2 separate regions of the Homo sapiens genome follow, and region 2 is linked to region 1. Evidence: fine-mapped expression QTL. A gene starts in region 1. The other region holds a variant in brackets. All regions are shown on one strand. Distances are between the middles of the regions. Region 1 holds the start of EIF4G3 (eukaryotic translation initiation factor 4 gamma 3). Region 2 overlaps EIF4G3 (eukaryotic translation initiation factor 4 gamma 3).

What was found.
Region 2: its variant is fine-mapped to the expression of EIF4G3 in whole blood (TOPMed, PIP 0.97).

What each region holds. Positions count from the first base shown.
Region 1 is chr1:21,174,746-21,179,745 of GRCh38, reverse strand. EIF4G3 (eukaryotic translation initiation factor 4 gamma 3) reads left to right here and starts at 2,849. Exons shown (of 37, transcript NM_001391906.1): 1 at 2,849-3,024; 2 at 3,388-3,571. RefSeq lists an enhancer at 2,885-2,934.
Region 2 is chr1:21,023,417-21,028,936 of GRCh38, reverse strand. All of the region lies in intron 4 of EIF4G3 (eukaryotic translation initiation factor 4 gamma 3), which reads left to right. Among named protein-coding and RNA genes, the nearest start is that of MIR1256, 38 kb to the right of the region's middle. The variant G/A (reference allele first, on the strand shown) is at 3,545.

The DNA of each region.
Region 1 (5,000 bases):
ACTTGAGCAAGGCCATTCTTTGGGCTGAAAGAACAGAGCTCTACCTTTTTGACTTTGTTCCCTACAAACTTCCTCCATTGATTGCCTGTGGCCAGAATCTTATCAGGGACTTTTACATTATTTTGCCCAAGGTCTATCCATTTTAAAACAGATAAGTTTCATAAAGTGCTTAGCTAAGACTGGCACACAGTAATTGTCTGATGCTTGTAGCTATTATTAAGTTAGAAAATGAAGCTAGCTCAGAAAAGAATAACAATTAGGCAATTATCGGCCTGTTATCACCCTAGTGTAAATGAGAAGTCAAATAATTTCCTTGGAACAGGTTTTGATTGGGATAAGGATGCCTGAGATTCCAGAAAATGAAAGGAGAATCTGGGGAACTGAAGGACCACTAGGGAATTCTTCCTGGAGTCAATTATATGTGGAGAGGAGCAGAAAATCCCATCCTAAATAATCAGGTGTTACAGGCCGGGCATGGTGGCTCACGCCTGTAATCCCAGCACTTTGGGAGGCCAAGGCGGGCGGATCACGAGGTCAGGAGATCGAGGCCATCCTGGCCAACACAGTGAAACCCCATCTCTACCAAAAATACAAAAAGAGAAAAAAAATCAGCCGGGCACGGTGGCAGGTGCCTGTAGTCCCAGCTACTTGGGAGACTGAGGCAGGAGAATGGCGTGAACCCAGGAGGCAGAACTTGCAGCGAGCCAAGATTGCGCCACTGCACTCCAGCCTGGGCGACAGAACGAGACTGTCTCAAAAAAAAAAATAAATAAATAAAAAAATCAGGTGTTACAAATCCAGACAGTTTAAGATGCCACAGTATGAAGTAGCTGCTGTCTTCCAGTCTGGAGATGGGGATGAGGCATCCTTTTCAATGTCAGAAACTGTGGAGCTCTAGCTAGAAAGACGCCGTAGGGGGGTTGTGGTATCACTCTCTTTCAGATGCTCTTTTATCCTAGAAGGAGCATTTGGGGCTCCCAGGGATTGTCACGAATTAAGCATCCACTATGTGTAGAGCTTTATATGAATTAAAAACAACAATAGGCCAGGCGCGGTGGCTCACGCCTGTAATCCCAGCACTTTGGGAGGCCGAGGCAGGCAGATCACCTGAGGTTGGGAGTTTGAGACCAGACTGACCAACATGGAGAATCACCGTCTCTACTAAAAGTACAAAATTAGCCAGGCGTGGTAGCGCATGCCTCTAATCCCAGCTACTCGGGAGGCTGAGGCAAGAGAATCGCTTGAACATGGGAGGCGGAGGTTTCCGTGAGCCGAGATCGTGCCATTGCACTCCAGCCTGGGCAACAAGAGCGAAACTCCGTCTCAAAAAACAGCAACAACAAAATAGTAAGGCAGTGTGTGAAGCAGGATAGCAGGAGTCAGAACTAGACTCTAATCTTAGCTCTGCCAGCCACACTGTCGGTGCGACCTCGGGGAAGTCTTTTGTGCGTTTTGAGCCTCAATTTTCTCAGCTTTTCTGTGGTTTGATGGTATTGAGCCTCCCCAGTCTCAGTTTATTCATTTGTAAAATGGATACTACCTATTTCACAGGACTGCTTGAGATAATGAAGGGTACAGCGCTTAGTGCCATGTCTGGTAAATATTATATTAAAACTTGATTGCTCCATGACGCCTGCCATTTTTTTTTTTTTTTTGAGACGAAGCCTCACTCTGTCGCGCCCAGGCTAGTGTGCAATGGCACTCTCTCAGCTCACTGCAACCTCCGCCTCCTGGGTTCAAGTGATTCTCCCGCCTCAGCCTCCCGAGTAGCTGGTGCCTGCCACCACGCCTGGCTAATTTTTGTATTTTTAGTAGAGACGAGGTTTCATCATGTTGGCAAGGCTGGTCTTGAACTCCTGACCTCAAGTGATCCACCGGCCTTGGCCTCCCAAAGTGCTGGGATTACAGGCGTGAGCCACCGCGCCCGGCCGATGCCTGCCATTCTTTCCCACTCAATGCCACTGTGCTTAGGACAAGGCACCTGCTAAGGAGTGGGGTGTGCGGGGTTGGGGGTGGGAGTGATCTTGGCAGGTCTAGCTGGGAAGAAAATCCTTATCAACAAATGTCACCCAGCATAGGACATTGGGGAGCTGATCACTGGCTGCTGGTCAAAGGGCGCTCCAGTCCTGGGGAAGGCCTAGGTTTGAATCCATCCACAGAGCTCAGTTAAGGCTGCTGATTAGATATGGCGGCTCAGGTCATGTCCCCAGCCAATATGGGAGGCGGCAAGGTTCATCCAGATGAAGGTGGCATTTAGATTTAGGCTCTGTCCTTTCCCGATAGGGTGACCTTGGGCTAGTCACTTTTCCTCTGTGTCCTCTGGAAATGGGGCTCCTCATTCACCTCTCAGAGCGTCTGAGGAAGTGTCGACACAATGGGTGTGAAATGCGTGGGTTACAGGCCGGCGGGTGGCATTGGTTACGCGAAGTCCCCGCGGGGGGTCCCTATCCAACGGGTTCCATTCCGGTTAAGCGGTTCCTTCTCCAGGGGTTTTTCGCCTCGCCGCTGCCTCTCCGCCCCTGCGAGCGGGGCTCAGCGAACAGCCGACTCCGGGGCCATTACCATTGTTCTTCGAGGCTGGGCCGCAGGGGAGGACTCTCGCAAGCCAGACCTCGCCTTTGGTCTTTCCCTCCGCCCCGCACCCGCGCCGCTGTAAGCCAGCGAAGCCTCCCTCGCCGATCTTTGCCGAGGAAGCGAGTTAGCCCCTGAGCCCTCCCGAACGGCGGCCGAGGACGCACCCGAGCGTCTCCGAAGAATCCCGACCCCTAGCAGTCTCCGGAAAGAGCCGAAGAGGCTTCCCACCCTCGGTTTCCCGAGCCATTCCGAAAAAGTCCGAAGTTTTCCGAGCAGCCGTCCTGCCGGACTGCTGGAGGCGGCCACAGCGCCATGTTGGATGCTCTGCTCGTTGAGTGAAGAAAATCCACCGGCATCGCCTGAGCCCCGCTACCGAGAAGGGCGCCGCTTCCTCCGGGGAGGGGGATAAAGATCCCCCGCCGCCGGCCCATGAGGATATTGCCGTGAAAGGTCCGGTCTCTCCGCCTCCTGCCCCCGCCGGGTCCGGCCCCCCCCCTGGGGTCGCGTTGTCACGGAGACCGGCAGCCGGTGGTGCTGGCCCGCGGGGCGGCTGCTGCTGCCGGCGGCGGCGGCGGCGGAGGCGGCGGCGGCGGCGGCGGCGGCGTCGGGCGTGTGTGACCGGCCCCGGCCCCCTCCTCCTCCTCCCCCCAGGCTCCCCCCAGCCCCCCGCTCCCGCCGCCTCCCCGGGTCTGCCCCCATCCCGCCCCCCCGCTGCCCCCGGCCCCTGCACCCCGGCGCGCCCGGTCCCGCTCTGGGGGGGTTGGTGGCTTCGCTTTGCCATGAGTTTACCGCAGAAACCGGCTCTGAAATCAGGCACAGCGACTGCAGCAGGAACCGGACCCGGCACCGGAGCGGCGGCGGCGGCGGCAGCAGCGGTACCGCCTCCTCACCCGGCGGCGGCAGCAGCGGCGGCGGCGGCGGCGGCGGCGGCGGCGGCGGCAGCGGTCCCCCCTCCTCACCCGAACATCAGGGCCCTCCAGACTCAGGCGCCCCAACAGTATCCTTTTCACCTTCCTGTCGGCCCTTCGGTTCTCGTCGTCGCAGTCCAGGGGGACCCCGCAGCCCAGGGGACCCTCCTGCCGGCCGCCACAGCCCAGCCAGGAAAGGGACAGCGGCTCAAGCCCCTGCATCGGGCTTGGGCGGAGCTTTTGGGGTGCCCCGGCAGCAGCACTGCGGGGGGACCCCCAGACCCTCTGCAATACTGTGAAAGCTAGCCCCACTTGGCCATGCTTCTGCAGCCCCTTCCTTTTAGAGCTTGGGGTCCCTTCTCCCCTCCTCCCCTAAGGTACCCTCCCCCCCTTTATTGGGCAGAATTTGCTTGGTGCCTGGGACCAACCCTGCAGGGAAGGCTTTTCTCTGGTTGTTGTGAGGATTACACCCTCCTGCTCTTCACCTCCCCTCGGCTCCCCCTACAGCGGGACACAGTGGGCTTCCATAATTATTATTAGTACATAATAAACTTTATCGGTAAATTTCTTGTTTGAAACCAATCAGCTCGTTTCCGAGGTATGTTGGATTTTCAGTCTAAGGTGAAAATGTACAGAAAGCAGTTCCTCTGGATAATTTTTTTTAGTAATGGGAGAGTTGTGATGTGGTTTGTGGTAGAGATCTGAGGAGGAAATGTGACGCCGGACGCTTCCCTGTCTTTGACCTTTTTAAAGGAAGAGGAAGTTCACCGACATTACCCATCACCCACAAAAGTCTCACTTCTTGGAAGATTTGTGTTAGGCTGAATATTTTTAATGGGCTTTAATTTACTCCTCATAGGCCTGATGTCTAGAGAGTTACCAGGGCTTCTGGAGGAAAGTCTAGTATTGAATGTTTCTAATTTCATGTTATTTGCTCGATTGTAGAATTTTGGAGAGCTTTGATTGAAAAGACTTGGTGATGGGGTATTTTAGTCAAAAACTAGCCGGTGAAGGTAAAACGTTGAATTCATGTATTCCACGGAGATTTAGAAAGGTATTGCGTACCTGAGAATAACATTTCATCATGCATCACCTCCTCCCTACACCCACTGTATTTGTGTAAATCAATAAATAATGATTGGATGTTAGATGTGTTGTGTTTTTATGTTTGTGTCATCGTGCGTTTGACTTTTAGAGATTGTAGGATGTTTGAGCAAGTAAGAAGCTAACTGCTGTGAGGTCCCCAGATTATTTCACAGTCTGTAGTTTGATTCTTGTCTGTATAGATTACTTTGAGAAGGGAAAGCAATCTCCCTTCTAGAGTCATTTCAGGTCATTGTTTGTTTTCTGCCAAGTGTCATTTTCTCTGTTCTTTAAACCTAGTTCGTGATTTTCAATCCAGGCACCGCGGTGCAGTGTAAAGATAAATTCCATTCCAGTGTGACGTGTGTACTGATTTCATAATGTTTTTATCCTGCATGATTCTGTTCAATTAGGAATTGTTCACCGATGAGAAAG
Region 2 (5,520 bases), 150 kb after region 1:
TCCCGCTTGGGCAACAGCAAGACTGTATCTCAAACAAAAAATTAATGATTTATTAATACAGCTGGTCTAAACTCTATTTAGGTATAATATAGCTACAACTTAGCTGCTTGATAATCTTTTTAGTAATCACTAATTGACTTTCAGTCATATCCTGAACTGTGCTTACTTCAGTACTAGGTTGGTCACCAACAGCTCGACAGGCCATACACTGTATATAGCTTGTGAAGTTATGTATCATGAGTAGCTCTGCTTCACCTTGTCTAATTCTGCTGCTTACTGTTTGTTGAAACACCTGTGTTTTACAATTTATTATGACATGTTTAAGCTTATAAAAGTATATTGTAACGTGTTTGGTTTGAAAGGATAATCATAACACAACCAACCACCACTCACCTTAAGTCGATTATCAATATCTTTGAAGCCACTCTGTATTCCTCCTTTATCTCAGCTGCCTCTTTCTCCCTAGTGGTAACAATTATCCTGAGTTTTGTATAAGTAGATATTTGTTTTATAATTTCACTGGTGTCTGCATTTTGAGGTTTACATTTTGAATTAGCCATCATGTGTGACCTTGGGCAACTTACTTTATTATCTCTGAACCTTTCTCTTTTTTTTCCCAATTTAAAAAATTGTGTTAAAATGCAAATAGCACAAAGTTTAAAATCTTAACCCCATTTTTAAGTGTACATTTTAAGTATACATTGATAATATGCAGTGATCACACGATCCATCTTTATAACTCTTTTCTTTCATCTTGTAAAACTGAAAGTCTATACCCATTAAACAATAACTTCCCTTTGACCCCTCCCTTTGCACCCTGGCAACAGCCATTCTCCTGTCTGTCTGTGGCTTTGGCTATTCTTTAACTACATCATATAACTGTTATCATACAGTAGTTGTTTGTGCCTGGCTTATTTCACTTAGCATATTGTCCTCAAGTTCCATCCATTTTGTAGGATATGTCAGAATTCCCTTTCTTTTTAAGGCTAATGTTTCACTTTATCTATGGTACCATATTGTGCTTATCTATTCATTTGCTGATGCATACTTGGTTGGCTTTCATGTTTTACCAGTTATGAATAATAGTGATATGAATGTGGATGTACAAAGAACTCCCTTAAGACCTCGTTTTCATTTATTTAGAGTGGATACTTGGAAGTGGAATTGCAGAACTGTATGGTTATTCCTATTTTTTGTGAAAATGCCATACTGTTTTCCACAATGGCTGTACCTATTTTACATTCCTACCAACAGTGTGCAAGAGTTCCACTTTCTCCACATCTTTTACAACACTTTTCCTTTTTTTTGAGATGGAGTCTTGCTGTGTTGCCCAAGTTGAAGTGCAGTGGGGCGATCTCGGCTCACTGCAACCTCTGCCTCCTGAGTTCAAGCGATTCTCCTGCCTCAGCCTCCCAAGTATCTGGGACTACAGGCCCGTGCCACCATGCCCGGCTAATTTTTTGTATTTTTAGTAGACACAGGCTTTCACTGGGTTAGCCAGGATGGTCTCGAACTCCTGACCTTGTGATCTGCATGCCTTGGCCTACCAAAGTGCTGGGATTACAGGCACGAGCCACTGTGCTGAGCATGGTGGCACGCACCTGTAGTCTCAGCTACTTGGGAAGCTGAGGCAGGAGAATCACTTGAACCCGGGAGGTGGAGGTTGCAGGGAGCTGAGATCTTGCCACTGCACTCCAGCCTGGGCGACAGAGCGAGACTCTGTCTCAAAAAAAAAAAAAAAAATTGTATGTGTGTATGTACACATATATATACTAGCCATCTTGGTGTGAGGAGGTGATATATACCAATATAGTATTGATTTGTATTTCCTTAGGATTAGCATATTTTCATGGGCTTGTTGGCCATTTGTGTATGTCTTTTTAATAGAAATGTCTATTCGTGTCCTTTGCCCATTTCTGAATCTGATTGTTTGCTTTTTTGTGATTGAGTTTTAGGAGTTCTATATATTCAGGATATTAACTTTTTTTTTTTTTTTTTTTGAGACAGTGTCTCCCTCTGTCACGCAGGCTGGAGTGCAGTGGTGCGATCTCAGCTCACTGCAACCTCCGCCTCCTGGGTTTAAATGATTATCGTGCCTCAGCCACCTGAGTATCTGGGATTGCCATTCCTGGCTCATTTTTGTATTTTTAGTAGAGACAGGGTTTTGCCATGATGGTCAGGTTGGTCTCGAACTCCTGGCCTCAAGTGATTTCCCCACCTTGGCCTCCCAAAGTGCTGGGATTACAAACAGGCCATGGTGCCCAGCCCAGGATATTAACTTTTTAACAGGTGTACAGTTTACAAATATTTTCTCTTCTTCTGTAGGTTGCCTCTTGACTCTCTTGGTGTAATATCTTTCGATGCACAAAAATTTTAAATTGTTAATATGCCCAAGTTGTCTACTTTTTTTTTTTTTTGCTTCTGCCTTTGGTATTGTATCTAAGAAGTCATTGCCAAATCCAGTGTTTCAGAGCGTTTTCTCTCTGATTTCTTCTCAGATTTTTTTACTTTTAGCTCTTACATTTTGGTCTTAATCTATTTTGACTTAATTTTTGTATTTGGTGTTAAGTGAGGGTCTAACTTCATTCTTTTGCATATGTATATCTAATTTCTCCCAGAACCATTTGTTGAAAATGTCCTTTCCCCATTGAATGGTTTTGGTACCCTTTTCAAAAATCGTTTGAACATATATTTGTGGGTTTATTTCTGGGCCATTTTTTCCCATTTCTAATTACTTTTGGTTTATTTTTACACCAGTACTGCACTTTTCATTTTTGCAGATTTGTAATTTTGAAATCTGGAATTGTGAGGCCTCCAGCTTTTTTCTTTTCAGCTATTGTTTTGGCTATCCAGACTTCCTTGAGAATACATATGAATATCAGGATGGGGAGTTTTTCTGTTTTTGTAGAACACACCATTGGGATTTTGATAGAGATTGCATTGAATCTGTAAGTCACTTTGGGTTGTATTGGTATATTAACAATATTAAATCTTCCAGTTCATGAACAGGGGATAATTTTTTGTTATTGGGTTTTTAGGTTATCTCATCCACTCTCATGGCAAGGACTGTTGGTTATGTTTGCTGATTCTTAGTTCATTCTGGGTTGACTCTGCTCTCTTCATGCCTAATTACTCTGTAGACTTTTGTACCTAGAGATCTCTTTGACATTAAAACTCTCCATAATATAAATGAATTCATCACTTTTTTATTCAAAGCAGAGAAAACAACTATTGCAGAAGCCTTGAGAGAAAAAAAAGTTGATATATTTGAGAGAATAAAATAAGGCCAGTATGGCTGGACAGTAATGGTATGTGAAGTGAAGTCAATGATAGCCTGGGACCCAATCATTTTGGGTTCTGTAAGCATTCTTCACCATCTAATCCTCAAACCTTGGAGAAGCAGCTTTCTTCCCCTTATATTTAGGTGCTCAGAAAATCCTGCTGTTTCTATAATATATGAATTAACTCCCAAATCTGCCTTTTTTTTTTCTGTCGAGATCCACTGCTGTTATCAGGCCCTTATCACTATGTACCTGGGCTGTCG[G/A]AATAGATCCCTGTTTGATATCTTGACACCAGTATCTTCACTAAGAGTTCATATTGTTGTAATGGCTCTCTTTTTTAAACAAATTGGATGATATTTCTGCCCTGTTCAACATCTCCTAGGATTACCTTCATGGCGAAGTCCTTACTTGACCCGTCTTTTTAGTCTGGCCCTAATCTAATCCTCTGATGTCACCTCCTCTCACTCTACCTCATGCACTTCTATTCTCTGGCATTACTGACGTGTTTATGGTTCAGCAGACGTGCCCTAGTTTTTCAGGTCTTTGTGCTTCTGTTTAAAATATTCCTTGTTTTGCCTACACATGATCTCCTCTGCTTTTTATGGCTGACTGCAAGCTCACCATCTATCACTGTTGATCTGCCACCTTTGGAGGCTCCCTGGAACTCTTCTCCCAGGAAGAATTAATCACATTCTGCTCTGTACTTCTTGATATATTATTCATACTCCTTACACCACTTTCTTTTTTTTTTTTTAAATTTATTTTTTTATTGATAATTATTGGGTGTTTCTCACAGAGGGGGATTTGGCAGGGTCATGGGACAATAGTGGAGGGAAGGTCAGCAGATAAACAAGTGAACAAAGGTCTCTGGTTTTCCTAGGCAGAGGACCCTGCGGCCTTCTGCAGTGTTTGTGTCCCTGATTACTTGAGATTAGGGATTGGTGATGACTCTTAACGAGCATGCTGCCTTCAGGCATCTGTTTAACAAAGCACATCTTGCACCGCCCTTAATCCATTTAACCCTGAGTGGACACAGCACATGTTTCAGAGAGCACAGGGTTGGGGGTAAGGTCACAGATCAACAGGATCCCAAGGGAGAAGAATTTTTCTTAGTGCAGAACAAAATGAAAAGTCTCCCATGTCTACTTCTTTCTACACAGACACGGCAACCATCCGATTTCTCAATCTTTTCCCCACCTTTCCCCCCTTTCTATTCCACAAAGCCGCCATTGTCATCCTGGCCCATTCTCAATGAGCTGTTGGGCACACCTCCCAGACGGGGTGGCTGGCTGGGCAGGGGGCTGACCCCCCCACCTCCCTCACGGTCGGGGCGGCTGGCCGGGCAGAGGGGCTCTTCACTTCCCAGTAGGGGCGGCCGGGCAGAGGCGCCCCTCACCTCCCGGACGGGGCGGCTGGCCGGGCGGGGGGCTGAACCCCCACCTCCCTCCCGGATGGGGCGGCTGGCCGGGCGGGGGGCTGACCCCCCCCCACCTCCCTCCCGGACGGGGTGACTGCCGGGCGGAGACGCTCCTCACTTCCCAGATGGGGTGGCTGCTGGGCGGAGAGGCTCCTCACTTCTCAGACGGGGCAGCTGCCGGGCGGAGGGTCTCCTCACTTCTCAGACGGGGTGGTTGCCAGGCAGAGGGTCTCCTCACTTCTCAGACTGGGCGGCCGGGCAGAGACGCTCCTCACCTCCCAGATGGGGTCGTGGCCGGGCAGAGGCGCTCCTCACATCCCAGATGGGGCGGCGGGGCAGAGGCGCTCCCCACATCTCAGACGATGGGCGGCCGGGCAGAGACGCTCCTCACTTCGTAGATGTGATGGCGGCCGGGAAGAGGCGCTCCTCACTTCCTAGATGGGATGGCGGCCGGGCGGAGACGCTCCTCACTTTCCAGACTGGGCAGCCAGGCAGAGGGGCTCCTCACATCCCAGACGATGGGCGGCCAGGCAGAGACACTCCTCACTTCCCAGACGGGGTGGCGGCTGGGCAGAGGCTGCAATCTCGGCACTTTGGGAGGCCAAGGCAGACGGCTGGGAGGTGTAGGTTGTAGCGAGCCGAGATCACGCCACTGCACTCCAGCCTGGGCACCATTGAGCACTGAGTGAACAAGACTCCGTCTGCCATCCCGGCACCTCGGGAGGCCGAGGCTGGCGGATCACTCGCGGTTAGGGGCTGGAGACTGGCCCGGCCAACACAGCGAAACCCTGTCTCCACCAAAACCAGTCAGGCATGGCGGCG